Linked DNA regions of Homo sapiens. The protein of the gene in region 1 purifies or fractionates together with the protein of each later gene. This does not show direct contact. Each region holds a gene or a part of one and is shown in the gene's direction. Other genes may lie near its edges. The genes, in order: FAM83D and CSNK1A1.

Evidence for each region.
Region 2: the proteins of FAM83D (region 1) and CSNK1A1 purify together in Homo sapiens (affinity purification with mass spectrometry; 9 studies listed by BioGRID and IntAct, with this or other methods). This does not show direct contact.

What each region holds. Positions count from the first base shown.
Region 1 is NC_000020.11:38,943,254-38,950,535, forward strand, and holds part of FAM83D (protein FAM83D), read left to right. Parts: intron 1-4,622; coding exon 4,623-4,747; intron 4,748-7,282.
Region 2 is NC_000005.10:149,506,192-149,513,473, reverse strand, and holds part of CSNK1A1 (casein kinase I isoform alpha), read left to right. Parts: intron 1-264; coding exon 265-404; intron 405-1,601; coding exon 1,602-1,680; intron 1,681-3,520; coding exon 3,521-3,595; intron 3,596-6,340; coding exon 6,341-6,447; intron 6,448-7,282.

The sequences.
Region 1 (7,282 bases):
CCTCAGATGATCTGCCTGCCTCGGCCTCCCAAAGTGCTGGGATTACAGGCATGAGGCCCCATGCCCAGCCTGCTCTGTGCTTTTAACAAATGTTATGTAACTGAATCCTCAAAGCAGCCCCTATCAGGTAAGTGGCACCTGTGTTTTAGACCAGGAAATAGTGACACAGAGAATCCAAGTGTCCACCACTTCAAAGTAGTGGGCCTAGGGTCTGCCTCCTTGTATGTCTGCCTCCAACCCCAGTGTCTGTAATCACTATTACATGCTGCTGCTGTTCATTTCTCATTATTGTAAAATTAGATTTTATGTCTATTTCTCTGATTCTGAAAATGACCTAAGTGTTTCAGTGGAAGCCTATACAACATAGCTAGCTTGGTCACTTTCATGGAAAGAAGAAAGAAAAATTGTCATATTTATTACAGAATTTGTTTTTTTGTTGTTGTTGTGTTTTTTTGAGATGGAATTTTGCTCTTGTTGCCCAGGCTGGAGTGCAGTGGCACGATCTCAGCTCACTGCAACTTCTGCCTCCCGGGTTCAAGCGATTCTTCTGCCTCAGCCTCCTGAGTAGCTGGGATTACAGGTGCCCACCACCACACCCGACTAATTTTTTGTATTTTTAATAGAGACAGGGTTTCACCATGTTGGTCAGGCTGGTCTCAAACTCCTGACCTCAACTGATCCACCCGCCTCGGCCTCCCAAATTGCTGGGATTACAGGCATAAGCCACCATATCCGGCCCAGAATTTGTTTTTTAAAAATTAAGCAACCCATGGCTTCTCAGCCTTTTGGCTAAGATCAAGTGTAAAAATTAAGCATCTTAACCTGTGAGCTTCAGAACTTTATTTGTTCATCACCTGTATGAGTATCTATTATGCACTGGGTACTAGATATAAAGCAGTCAGCAAAACGAATTTAGTCTTTGGTACTATAAGTTACTGCCTAAGAGACTCTAACTTACCACCTTATTATTACCAAGCAATTTGGTTTACAGAATTCAGATTCTCCCACAGAGTTCTTGTTGGTTGCCTCATGATAAAGACAGGATTGGGGTTTCTAGACCAATTGAGATGAGACAGCCATGTAACCCAACAGGTGGTTAGAAAATGAGTCCAGGTGGACCCAAGGAAGATACACTTTGGCATGGAAAAGAGCATTATCAGCTAGCCAGGTAAAGAAATGGAAGGTATCAGTGTTTAATTTCAAGGTACTCTTTCTATAATTAAGGCTATGCATTAGCAGAGAAATCACAGAATTGTTCTGGCCACAACTTTGGTCAAGTGATTTTCTCTATTTATCTACTAGACAGAAATCTATGAGCAGGCACCGGTTCAGTTGCCTACTGTTGGTTGTTGCCTTCATAGGTGTCCAGATCCTCTGCAGGGGGGTTTAAGAAGGCCTATTTCTGGCCGGGCGCGGTGGCTTACGCCTGTAATCCCAGCACTTTGGGAGGCCGAGGCGGGTGGATCACGAGGTCAGGAGATCGAGACCACCCTGGCTAACACGGTGAAACCGCGTCTCTACTAAAAATATAAAAAATTAGCCAGGCCTGGTGGCACACGCCTGTAGTCCCAGCTACTTGGGAGGCTGAGGAAGGAGAATCGCTTGAACCCGGGAGGCAGAGGTTGCAGTGAGCCGAGATCGCGCCACTGCACTCCAGCCTGGGCAACAGAGAGAGACTCTGTCTCAAAAAAAAAAAAAAAGGCCTATTTCTCTGGCCTCCCCAGTTTTTGTAGTTTTACCTCCTTCCTGGGGAAGCACTGTCTTCCCTGGTTGCTTGTGTCTCCTGTTCCTCTCTGTGCTAGTGAATTTGTGCCCCTTGCTGTATGGGGGCTGATGTCCCCATGCTCTGCCTCTGTAGCTGGTTCAGAATGTTGGGTTGTGCTGTCTGTAGGAACTTGGTCACACATTGATGTGCAGGCGCTCACAAGTGCTTTGGCCACGATCACAGAGGCATATGCAACATTCAGATGTGTGTCAAAGGGAAAGATACAGAAAACCACACCTAATCTGCCCATAATGGTATTCTTATGCTTATTATATGTTGATCCTTTAAGACTTGGCTCAGGGGTCATCACCTCCTCCAGGAAGCTCTCCTCCCACCAAGTCCAGGTGTACCTCTATGACATTCCCTAGTCGTTTTTCTTTTTTTAATTTTTATTTTGAAATAATTTAAGATTTATAAAGAAGTTACAAAAATAATATAAGAAATTCCTGAATACTCTTCACCCAAGTTCTCCACATGTTAACATCTTACAAACCTCAGTACAAATAACAAAATCAGGAAATAAACTTGATATCAATACTATCTAATTTACAGACTTATACATTTCCCGGTCGTTCCACTAATGCCCTTTTTTATGGTCCAGGATCCAATCCAGTCCAGGATCACACCTTACATTTAGTTGTCAAGTCTCCTTCATGTGATTTAATCTGGAACAGTTTCTCCATCTTTCTTTGTCTTTTAGGGTCTTGACCTGCCCCCACCCCCCCCCCACCACCCCACCCCCCGTTTTTTTTTTTAAGAGATAAGGTCTCGCTATGTTGCCTAGGCTGGTCTTGAACTCCTGGACTCAATTGATCCTCTTGCATCAACCAGCCTCCCAAGTAGCTGGAACGACAGACATTTGGCACTGCGCCCGGCTGGATCTTGACACCTTTAAAGAATACTAGCTAGCTGGGTGCAGTGGCTCACGCCTGTAATCCCAGCACTTTGGGAGGTTGAGGTGGGCAGATCACCTGAGGTCAGGAGTTTGAGACCAGCTTGGCCAATATGGCGAAACCCCGTCTCTACTAAAAATACAAAACAATTAACCAGGCATGATGGCAGGTGCCTGTAGTCTTAGCTACTCGGGAGGCTGAGGCAGGAGAATTGCTTGAACCTGGGAGATGGAGGTTGCAGTGAGCCGAGATTGTGCTACTGCACTCCAGAGTGAGACTCCACCTCAAAAAAAAAAAAAAAAAAAAAAACAATTTTTTGTAGAATTTGGGTTTGTCTGATGTTTTATCAAAGTTAAATTCAGATTACGCATTTGGTAAGAAGACCACAGAAGTAGCATTATGTCTTGCCATAGTTTTGTGTTTTATTTTTAGCTTATTTTGAATATTGATAGATTAACAGAAGTTGCAAAGATTGTACAGAAAAGTTTCATGTACCCTTCACCCAGTTTCCCCAAATGTTACATCTTATGTAACTTATGGTACAATGTCAAAACCTGGAAATTGACATTGTATACAGCTTTGTGCCATGTTATCGTCATGCATGCATATCCAGACAGAAGTTTCCATCACCACAAAGATCTCCCTCCTCCTGCTCCTTTATATAGTCACATCACTCCCCTCACTTTAACCCCTAGCAACCACTAATTTGTTCTCTATTTCTATAATTTTGTCGTTTACAGTCTATTTTGTAAATGGAATTATACAGTATGTGACCTTTCAAGATTTGCTTTTTTTCTCTCATCACAGTGCTTTTGAAATCCATCCAAGATGTGCACGTATCAACAGTTTGTTCCTTTTCATTGCTGAGTATTGTATGGTATCTTATACCATTCAGCCACTGAAGGACATTTGGATATTTCCAGTTTTTGTCTGTTATGAATAAAGTTGCTGTGAACATGTGTAGAGGTTTTGTGTGGATATAGGTTTTCATTTCTCTGGATGCTGTTATGTGTTACTGTAGTTTCTAAATCAATTAGTTTTCTCTCTCTTATTCTAGTCCTTGAAGGTAAGGAGCATGCCTTACATCTCTGTTGTCTCACGGCTTGGCACATAGTAGGGGCTCTCTATGTTTATGGAATCAATGAGTCAAACAAAAATCTTACACGTTTAATTTAAATGTGTAAGATTTCTAACGATATAGAGCCACTGGTCTGCTCCAGAGAATGCAGATTGTTGTAGTATTTTGTATGCCATTGTTTATACATTTATGTGTGTCATTTTACAGGAATAATTATGCATACATGTGCAGTATATTGCCCCAGCATACCACTACCAGTGTACGTTTTTGGTAATTATGTATTTGTAGGAGATGTGACATTGCTTGTTAAGCCACATGTGATATGAGTGTTTCTGCCTCAGCAGGCCTGTACTAGAGAAGGCCTGTCCTGTGTTCCTATTCTCCATACCCATTATGGTGTTGAGGGTGAGTGAGGATGGACTGTTACTCTAATGTGATGCCATTAAACAAACAAGTTGGAGGAAGATCAGCTTACCTTCTTTCAGACTTTGCTAAAATGTTCTTTATTACTAGCATGTTTTCTTTGATGATTTTATCCCACACATTTTGCTTCAGAATCATTTCTTGGATTCTGTTGTTTAGTATCCCAAAAAGGTTGAGTGTTCTTTTAGAACACATACACGCATGAACTAAGGGTCTCAAAAGTAAATATAAGAAAAGAACAGATGAGAAGATGGACCAAATGTAGAAGTAACATCACTTGAGGCTTGAGAACTGTCTGGCTAGTGTACCATGTATACTGTCACTAAATGGTGACCCTAAGCCACGCATATGCCAATAATTATATCTGGGAATTGTAAACTAAGGCTTTTTGTCCTAACCATTTGCTCAGCAGATGAGTATTGCTGAATTGTTCATTTATATTTCTCCCACTCCCTGCCAACAGTTAATGACAGTTCGGACTATCACAGGAAATATCTACTATGCAAGGTCAGGAACTAAGATTATTGGGAAGGTTCACGAAAAGTTCACGTTGATTGATGGCATCCGCGTGGCAACAGGCTCCTACAGGTAAGTCTCTAACCCGTCCAAGGCTTATTAATCTAAACTCTTCAGAAGAAGCATGTCATGTAAAGGTAAAAGCCTTTTCCTCTCAATGGGAGCCTGTATGGCCATGCATTCTGATATGCGTGCATCTGTGTATAGCAGCTGGTTATCAAAGCCTCCTGTTAGAGGCAGTTTGGGTGGGGGTCACTTCCCCTGTCCTGTAGTCCATAGATTAAAATGCAGAAGTTGAACTTGTATTGAGACAACACAGTCAGCAAGTCCTAGATTTCAAGCCTTGGCCCAGGTCTGCAGGGGACGAACTGGGGGTTAACAGCAACACACAGTCTGGAATCCTGGTTCCTTAGGGATCTGGACCCAGCTTGCCCTGCTCACTTGAAGGTAGGGGCAGTTGCAGGCATCTCCATTAGTGTTGAAGGCAGAGCCAGAGCTGTCAGCTTTAGACTCAAATCCTCCACGTTGCTTCAAGCCTTGTAATTTAGAGCTTTAGTCTAGAAAATACTGATTATGTTTCTGACCCACCTTTGAAGTGTCACATTGGCAATGGCATCTTAAGGTAGAGAGCAGGAAGGTTGAAGAGAGGGTGGGGATAATGAGCGGTTTACATGAATCTCTAGAATTTGTGCCATTTGTACATATGTGGCTCCAATGGTTGTATGTTCTGCCGCCTCTGCGGTAGATTGTCTGATGGTTTGCATGAGGTGTGTCTGTAGAATTTTAAAAAGAAAACCCCATTTTTGAAGAAACACACAACCCTGAGTGATAATTACGTGTCAGCCCTGGGTAAAGGTAGAAATGTGAAGGCTTGTGGAAAATGAGGCAGTAAGATCAAGAAAATCTTGACACCTTTCTTTTTCAACAGTACCCTCATTGCTCAGAACAAAATTTGAACTTTCTTCACCAAAGAGGCTGTGGGAAAAAACAAATTGAACTCTTTTTCTTGGAATTTCCTTTTGTAAGAAGTTTATTAAAAAAATTTGTTTTTAACCTAAGTAGGATTTATCTATATTAACCAAACTTAGCTACAAATGGACTTTTGCTGTTCTAAAATATAAAAACTACCCTCTCCAAATGAAATTGATGACGATGATAGCTTCCATTTGTTGAGGAGGTTTTATAATCTTGGTGTTGGATAGGTGCTTTATTTACATTATCTCATTGAAGGCTTTCTTTTTTTTTTTTTTCGTGATGGAGTCTTGCTCTGTTGCTCAGGCTGGAGTGCAGTGGCGCCATCTTAGCTCATTTCAACTTCTGCCTCTCAGATTCAAGCGATTCCTGTGCCTCAGCCTCCCGAGTAGCTGGGACTACAGGCATGCCACCATGACTGGCTAATTTTTGTATTTTTAGTAGAGATGGTGTTTCGCCACGTTGGCCAGGATGGTCTCAGACTCCTGACCTCAGGTGATCCGCTGGCCTCGGCCTACCAAAGTGCTGGGGTTACAGGTGTGAGCCACTGCGCCCGGCCCAGCCTCATTGAAGGCTTTCAAAAGAATCTTCCTTCTCAGGCTTTGAAGGCAGTTTTCAGGGGGACTTTGCATTAGCCATATCTTGGTTACAGGAGACAGAGTTGACTGTGTTCTATGATCTCTGTTTGAAACCTACTTCTGGTACAAATACCACCATTAGTGGGGTGATGGCAAGTGTCAGCTAACTCTCAAACGTACTGACTCGAAGAACCCGGAAGGAAGCATAGAAAGGTACAGTTGGTTTTCAGTTCATCTTGACGTAGGAGCCACACGCTGATCAGAACACTATATCCTGGTTCTGATGTTTTCGAGTTGACTTTTGTTCTTAGGCAGGCTCTCCCTTTGAAGTCAACGATCCTGGCTTTGTTTATTTTTTGTTTTTGAGACAAAGAGTCTTGCCCAGGCCGGAATGCAGTGGACGATCTCGGCTCACTGCCAAGTTCCGCCTCCTGCGTTTACGTCATTCTCCTGCCTCAGCCTCCCGAGTAGCTGGGACTACAGGCGCCCGCCACCACGCCCAGCTAACTTTTTTTTGTATTTTTAGTAGAGATGGGGTTTCACTATGTTAGCCGGGATGGTCTCAATCTCCTGACCTTGTGATCCGGCCACCTTGGCCTCCCAAAGTGCTGGGATGATAGGCATGAGCCACCGTGCCCAGCCAGATCCTGGCTTTCTTATATGGCCTTTAGTAGCTGTCTCCCAAAGGGTGAAACTCTTTCACTCAGAATTACTATCAATCCCTTCTGTCAGAATCCATTTGATAAAGAAAAAAGAAATCTCTGAAAACTTACTTGGCTCTGGTGGGATCACATGCCCACCCTGAATGAATCCCTGCATCCAAGGGAATAGGATACTCTGGCCAGTGTGGACCACATGCCTGCCCCTATTGTGGTTGGAGAGAGTATGATAATGAAAGCTTTCTGGGGTACAGGTGGGTGTGAGTTCTGCTAGCAGAGGAGGGAGGCGGGGAAGGGACACCGTACAGGCAAGGGCACATGGCCACTAATCAGCTCTAAAATGTTTTGAGCCATGGTGTTTTGTGAAAATGGCAGCACAGCCCCATGACTGTGGGTCC
Region 2 (7,282 bases), on another chromosome or scaffold:
TGAGTATGTAATGAAATGGGCCTGTGAAATCTGCAAACGACAAGGATAAACTACTAGACTTTTTTTTTTTAACTTGATTTATTGATGAAGACTAGTAAAAGCTTATGGGGGGGTGTTAAGTCTGTTCATTATCTGTTCTATTAATACTTAGGATACTTTATTTTGATATATTTGAATGCATAGAATAGATACCATTTAATGAATAAGACGCAGTTTAATTGAACAAGGTTGGAAACCTAATGTTTCTGTATTTCTCTTTTAAAGTTATTCCTTATTGATTTTGGTTTGGCCAAAAAGTACAGAGACAACAGGACAAGGCAACACATACCATACAGAGAAGATAAAAACCTCACTGGCACTGCCCGATATGCTAGCATCAATGCACATCTTGGTATTGAGCAGAGGTAAGTTCGAAAATGGAATGTGCTTATCATAGCCATAGCAGAAGCCATCAATGGGTTTTTGAAATATTTTAGTTTCTTACAATGTCTAAGGATGTTTCTTGGCTGAGGATTTGAAGGATGCTTATTAATCATTTTACCTGCTGCTTTAACCAGTGTAGAGAAGACCGTTAAATGAGGTCTTCTGGATTTTTTGTTGTTGTTGAAGGTTGTCTCTTGGGGGGAAAATACTGCGTGATAGAAAGTTAGAAGCATAAGTGCAATGTTGACGTTTCTTTTTGCAGCTGAAGATAGTACATATATTTTTAGAGCTATTTGGGGCTTTTTATACTTTAGTAATTCACGCTGAGTTTGGGAAGAATGCATTATTTATTTTTAAAAGGAAAATGTTATCAGTGTCCTAATAAACCAAAAGTGGGTTGATGGACCATCTCCTGTTATACTTCACTCAAATATATAAATTAATAGGATCTAGTTTAAAGTAAAAAAAGTAACAGTCTCTGCTCTCTTCCTATTTCTTCACATGAGTTCTAGAGTTTCGAGTTCCTTTCATCTTTTACAGTCACTTTTTGCTCCTTAAAACTAGCATAGAAGTAATAAGTAGAAAAAACAATGATATGCCTCCAGGTTAAAGAACCTCATACCAAGAATTTCAGGCTTAAGAAATATCCATGAATATCTGAATGATCTAGGTTAAACTGTAATGTCACTTTTTCTGTACGCCAAGGCATTACCTATCCTTAAATATATATATATCTAAATATATATTTGTATGTATGTGTATATAGATATGTATGCATGAATACATTCATATAGATGTTCAATTAGTTTTAAGTTGTAACTCCTTTTCAGTACTTCTGAAGTTTTTTTTTAATGAGTTTCTGCAAAACATAGAAATGTCATCCTGCTTGGTTCATTAAGCTCATTTAGAGGGTTGTTTAGCCAAATCGTTTCTGTTCTTTTAAAATTAAATTGTAAGACAGTTGTTTGTCAGATTTTGGATTCCATGGAAAAAGTTTTGTTTAGAGGTAGGTAACACATGAACTTTTTAAAATCACCTTAAATAAGTAGCTTCTTGCGTAAGACACCAAATAGTGTTCCCTCCTCATTTGGGAACATTTCTTCTGGGTACTTGACTTTCTTTCATATGTTTTTTCATAATAATAGTTCCAGTTTATAAAATTACGTTCTCTTTTCTAGTCGCCGAGATGACATGGAATCATTAGGATATGTTTTGATGTATTTTAATAGAACCAGCCTGCCATGGCAAGGGCTAAAGGTAAACCAGACTCACATTATCAGATTTTTCTCTCTCTTTTTTAGAATAAAAATATATATTGGAGAAGATAAGATTTAAGGTCCCTTCTAAGTCTGAGATTTTTCTGAGATATAAAGAATTAACCTTAATTTACTTTTTACCTTTTATCTGGGAAAATGAAACCAGATCATTTTAGTAAGAACTTAGTTCAGCTGAAGAACAGTGTCCTCTAAGAGACAGTAAGCTGGTACCCACTGGTAGCCACTAGCTCTATCTAGATGGAAGTGGGCATGGACTAAGAAAGGTGGAGACTTTCTCATTTTGATGTGTTGCCATTATGTTGAAAATGTATGTTTTTATGTACAGCAAGACCTGTTTATCCAGCAATACATGTCCTAACATTTTGTTTCTATTAGCTAGGAGTTTACTGTTACTTTTGTGAGTGTATGTTAATGATAAATCACCGTATCCTAATTTTGGGTGGGGGTGGGGGCATGGGGAATGGTCTTGCTCTGTTGCCCAAGCCGGAATGCCTGGCTCACTGCAGCCTGAACCTCCTGGGCTCAAGCAGTCCTCCTATCTCAGCCTCCTACCTGTAGCTGGGACTACAGGAACATGCCACCATGCCCAGCTAATTTTTAAATTATTTTTTGTAGAGACAGTGCCTCACTGTGTTGCCCAGACTGGTCTCAAACTCTTGGGCTCAAGTGATTCTCCTGCTTCAGCATCCCAAAGAACTGGGATTACAGGTGTGAGTCACCACTGTTGGTGTGTCCTAAATTTTAATGGCTATTTTGGTACCTTACCAGTTCTTTGAAGGAATACCTGTATTTATTGAGTGGCTGTGAGCTAGTTGTAGTGCTCAGTCCTTGGGTGGGTAGCTTTATCTAATATGAGTATTTTTAGTTTAGAAAAATATTGTGACTTATACAGTTAACTCCATTTATTAATGTCACTAATTGATGAACAAATTTTTTTGTATTAATCTGATGCCTTTGCCCTTGTGTTGAACATGGGTTAAGAAAATGCTTTTCAGGCTGAGCATGGTGGCTCATGCCTATAATCTTCAACACTTTGGGAGGCCCAGCCAGGCGGATCACTTGAGCCCAGGAGTTCAAGACCAGCCTGGTCAGTATGGCAAGACCTCACCTCTACTTTAAAAAAAAAAAATAGCAGGGTGTAGTGTCACATGCCTGTAGCCCCAATTACTCAGGAGGCTGAGCCGGGAGGATTGCTTTGAGCCCAGGAGTTCGAGGCTACAGCGAGCTATAATCGAGCCACTGCACTCCAGCCTGGGCAACCGAGGGAGACCTTGTCTCAAAAAAACAAACAAACAAACAAAAAAACAAAGAAAAGGAAAAAGGAAAGAAAATGCTTTTCAGCTGGGTATGATGATGCACACCTGTAGTCCCAGCTACTTGATAGGCTGAATCAGGAGGATTGCTTGAGGCCAGGAGTTGGAGGCCACAGGGAATTACTGCTGAGCCTGTGAATGGCTACTGCACTCCAGCCTGGGCAACATAGTGAGACCCCATCTCCTTAAAAAAATATATAGAAAGAAAGAAAATGCTTTTCAATTTTGGCCCCAGCCATTTTTACTTAAATCTAATATCCATATATTCCTATTAGACTCACCCTTTCCCTATAGCTAAAATTAAATTCTTAGAGAAGAAACTTACATCAGAAGTTAACAGTTTGGGAAAAATTTTTTTTAGATGTATTATACTTTGATTTTTTAAATTCTGGGTTAAAATTTCTCTTGAATCTCACAGGTATATGTTTATATGTCTAGTGCGTTAAACTACCATGGTTCTTCTCAGTAGCACTGAGTATATCTTTTTTATTTTATTCTTTTCCACAGGCTGCAACAAAGAAACAAAAATATGAAAAGATTAGTGAAAAGAAGATGTCCACGCCTGTTGAAGTTTTATGTAAGGTAAGTATGCATGATGAATATTAAAAAAATATAAATGAAGCCAGGCACAATGGCTCACACCTGTAATCCCAGCACTTTGGGAGGCCAAGGCAGTAGGTCACATGAGCCCAGGAGTTCAAGACCAGCCTGGGCAACATAGGGAAACCCCATTTCTACCTTAATAGATAAATGATCCGGCTGGGCACAGTGGCTCAAGCCTGCAATCCCAGCACTTTAGAAGGCCGAGGTGGGCGGATCACTTGAGCCCAGAAGTTCCACAAGACCAGCCTGGGCAACATGGTGAAATACCTTATCTACCAAAAATACAAAAATTAGCTGGGTGCAGTGATACACGTCTGTGGTCCCAGCTACTCAGGAGCCTGAGGCAGGAGGATCACTTGAGCCCGGGAGGCTCCAATTGCAGTGGTGAATCTTGGCTGTCTTGCAAGGATCTGAGATTGTGCCACTGCACTCCAGCCTAGGTAACAGAGTAAGACTCTGTCTCAAATGAGTGAATGAATGAATGATCCAGGAAGAAAAAGGAACATTTTATTTGCCAGCTCTGGAACTTGTAACATTGAATTAGGTAGCTATTCACCATTTTAAATTTACATTTTTATTATTCTAAATATCTTTAACAAGGACTTTTAACATAGGGGTCTTTTTAAATAAGTGTTTTGCTAGGCACAGTGGCTCACAGTTGAGGAGCCACTTGGTAGGCTGAAGGAGGGTGGATCGCTTGAGCCCGGGAGTTCCAGACCAGTCTAGGCAACATGGTGAAACCCCATCGCTACAAAAAATGCAAAAATTAGCCTGGCATGGTGACGCATGCCTGTAATCTCAGCTTCTTGGGGATGCTGGGGCAGGATGCTTGAGCCCAGGAGGTCGAGGCTGCAGTGAGCCAAGATTGCACCACTGCAGTCCAGCTTGGGTGACAGAGTGAGACCCTGTCTCAACAACAACAAAAATAAGTAAAATAATAAAAAATAAGTTAAATAAACGTTTTAAGTAAGTAAAATAAGTGTTTTATGTTTCTGGTTTGTTAGGGCTCTCTAATCTGTTGAAAACTAGGGGTAAATAAACAGGGCAGGTAAACATTTTCAATAGAACCTCATTAATCTATAAGAAAAAGTAAGAAATATTCTCCTTACCCTAAACTAGTGCTGGAAAAGAAAGGTTATCAACAATTAGTACATTAAGGAACAGGGAAACATGCAGACAGATTGGAGCAATCCAAAATAGCAGCTGTCCAACAATACAGGAATACAGAAGACAGTTTGAATCACACTCATTTTTTCTGAAATTTTCAACTTCATAGAAAGGCAATTGAGTTTAGAATAGAGAGGTATTTGTGTCATGATGAATAACCATGATCTCATCCATAAAAAGAAGGCCATATGGTCTTTCAGACAAGAAAGAATTGTATACCTGAAATTAAGTACAAAGCAGTATACAAATAAATAGTTGAGGGAAGAAATCAGTGAGAGTTAAAATAGTAATTATAAAGTGGTGAGATTGTTTTCAGTCTCATTGTCATACTGTTTACCATTAACACGGGCCATAAATGTATATAAATGTTGAGTTTTAGAAAGATGTATAATATGTATTATTTTACATCTTTTAACATATGTATATGTTTCAAGTGGTCACCCAATTTATATCGGTGCAATCAATAAAAAATGTTGCAAGCATTTCCATTCTATCCTTCCTAACTCCAGGACATGAGAAATTTCTCATAAGGTTGTAGAAAGAGATTGTAACTTTAACTCTACAATCATAAGGTTGTAGAAAGAGACTGCCTCCTTTAACTTTACCACTCTCCACATTGGCATTTACTCTAGGAGAGGAGATATAGAGGTTTGTGCTCTTTTAATATTTTGTATTTCCACATTGCTGATTGGGGAAATCCTTTTGGTGACTGATACCTAGAGCCTTGAAAATGTTTATACATTGTTGAGAATCTTTCCTAAGGAGCTAAATGGAAAAATTCTATGCCCACAGATGTACTTAGCAGTATTATTAATAATAGAGAAAAATTAGAATACATCCAAATGTTCAATTATAAAGAACAAGTTAATGATGTATATACTAGGTAGAATATCATGCAACCATTTAGAAACTTCTGAAGGCTGGGCATGGTGGCTCACACCTGTAATCCCAGCACTGTGGGAGACCAAGGAGGCCAAGGGGGGCAGATCTCTTGAGCTCGGGAATTTGAGACCATCCTTGGCAATCTGACAAAACCCTGTCTCTACTAAAAAATACAAAAAATTAGCTGGGCGTGGTAGCTCGTGTCTGTAGTCCCAGCTACTCAGGAAGCTGAGGTTGGAGGATCGCTTGAAGCCTGGGAGGTGGAGGTTGCAGTAAGCTGAGATTACACTACTGCACTCCAGCCTGGGAGACAGATTGAGACCCTGTCTTTAAAAAAAAAAAAAGTTCACGAAGAGGCGCGACTTTGATAAAATGACAGGTTTTAACAAGTGGGCTATGTAAGTTATTTAAGAACATAGTACTGTATAGGAAAAGCACTATATGGGAAGAACATATGTATTTCTTCTACTAATATTGTACATAATAGGGTAGGTAGGGTCATGAAATTTTATTTAAATTTATGAGGAGACCAAGCCATCATTTTAGCTCTCATATCTTCCTATGAAATGGTAAAATATCCCGCCCAAAAATATCTTTTTGCTTATACTTAAATGCATTTATTTTTCTATCTTGAAATGTTTGTTTTTAACTTTGTTTTAACCCTTGAACCTATAGGGGTTTCCTGCAGAATTTGCGATGTACTTAAACTATTGTCGTGGGCTACGCTTTGAGGAAGCCCCAGATTACATGTATCTGAGGCAGCTATTCCGCATTCTTTTCAGGTCAGTTTTTAAGGTATTTTAAGATTATAAACTCTGTGAGGGAAATTGGTTAAATTTACCTAACAAATTCATTCTGATAAATACTAAAGTAAAGCAGATCTAGCTAACATGAATAAAAGGTTTCAGAAACTGATTTATTTGGGACTAATTTGGCATTTTTCTATTTGTAGTGTAAATAGGTGATTTTAGTTTGGAGTGGATAGAGAGTTGAATCATACTCAAAGTAGAATGTAACTTTTCCAGAATAGTTATAATTCATATTAGATATAAGTGGCTGTCAGTGCCTTCTGGAACTCTCCAACTTTGTACAGTACCAAATAAAAAGCAATTAAAATATCACATAGTCATGGAGTCTGATCAAGTGGTAGCAGTCCTAAACTAGGGTAGGGTTCCTTAGGCACAACCCAGAACTGGTCTTGAAAAAGGGGGGGGAATAGATTACATGTGGCTCAAACTCTTAGTTGGAAGAGAGTAAGAATTGAGGTAATCCGCCCAGGTACGGTGGCTCACGCCTGTAATCCCAGCACTTTGGGAGGCCGAGGCGGGCAGATCGCTTGAGGTCAGGAGTTAGAGACCAGCCTGCCCGACATGGTGAAGCCCCATCTTTACTAAAAATACAAAAATTAGCCGGGTGAGGTGGTGCTCACCTTTAATCCCAGCGACTCGGGAGGCTGAGGCAGGAGAATCTCTTGAACCTGGGAAGCGGAGGTTGCAGTCAGCTGAGATCCCCCCAGTGCACTCCAACCTGGGTGACAATGAGGCTCTGTCTCAAAAGAGAAAAACAAAGAATTCAAGTAATCTGCCAGGTGCAATGGCTCACACCTATAATCCTAGC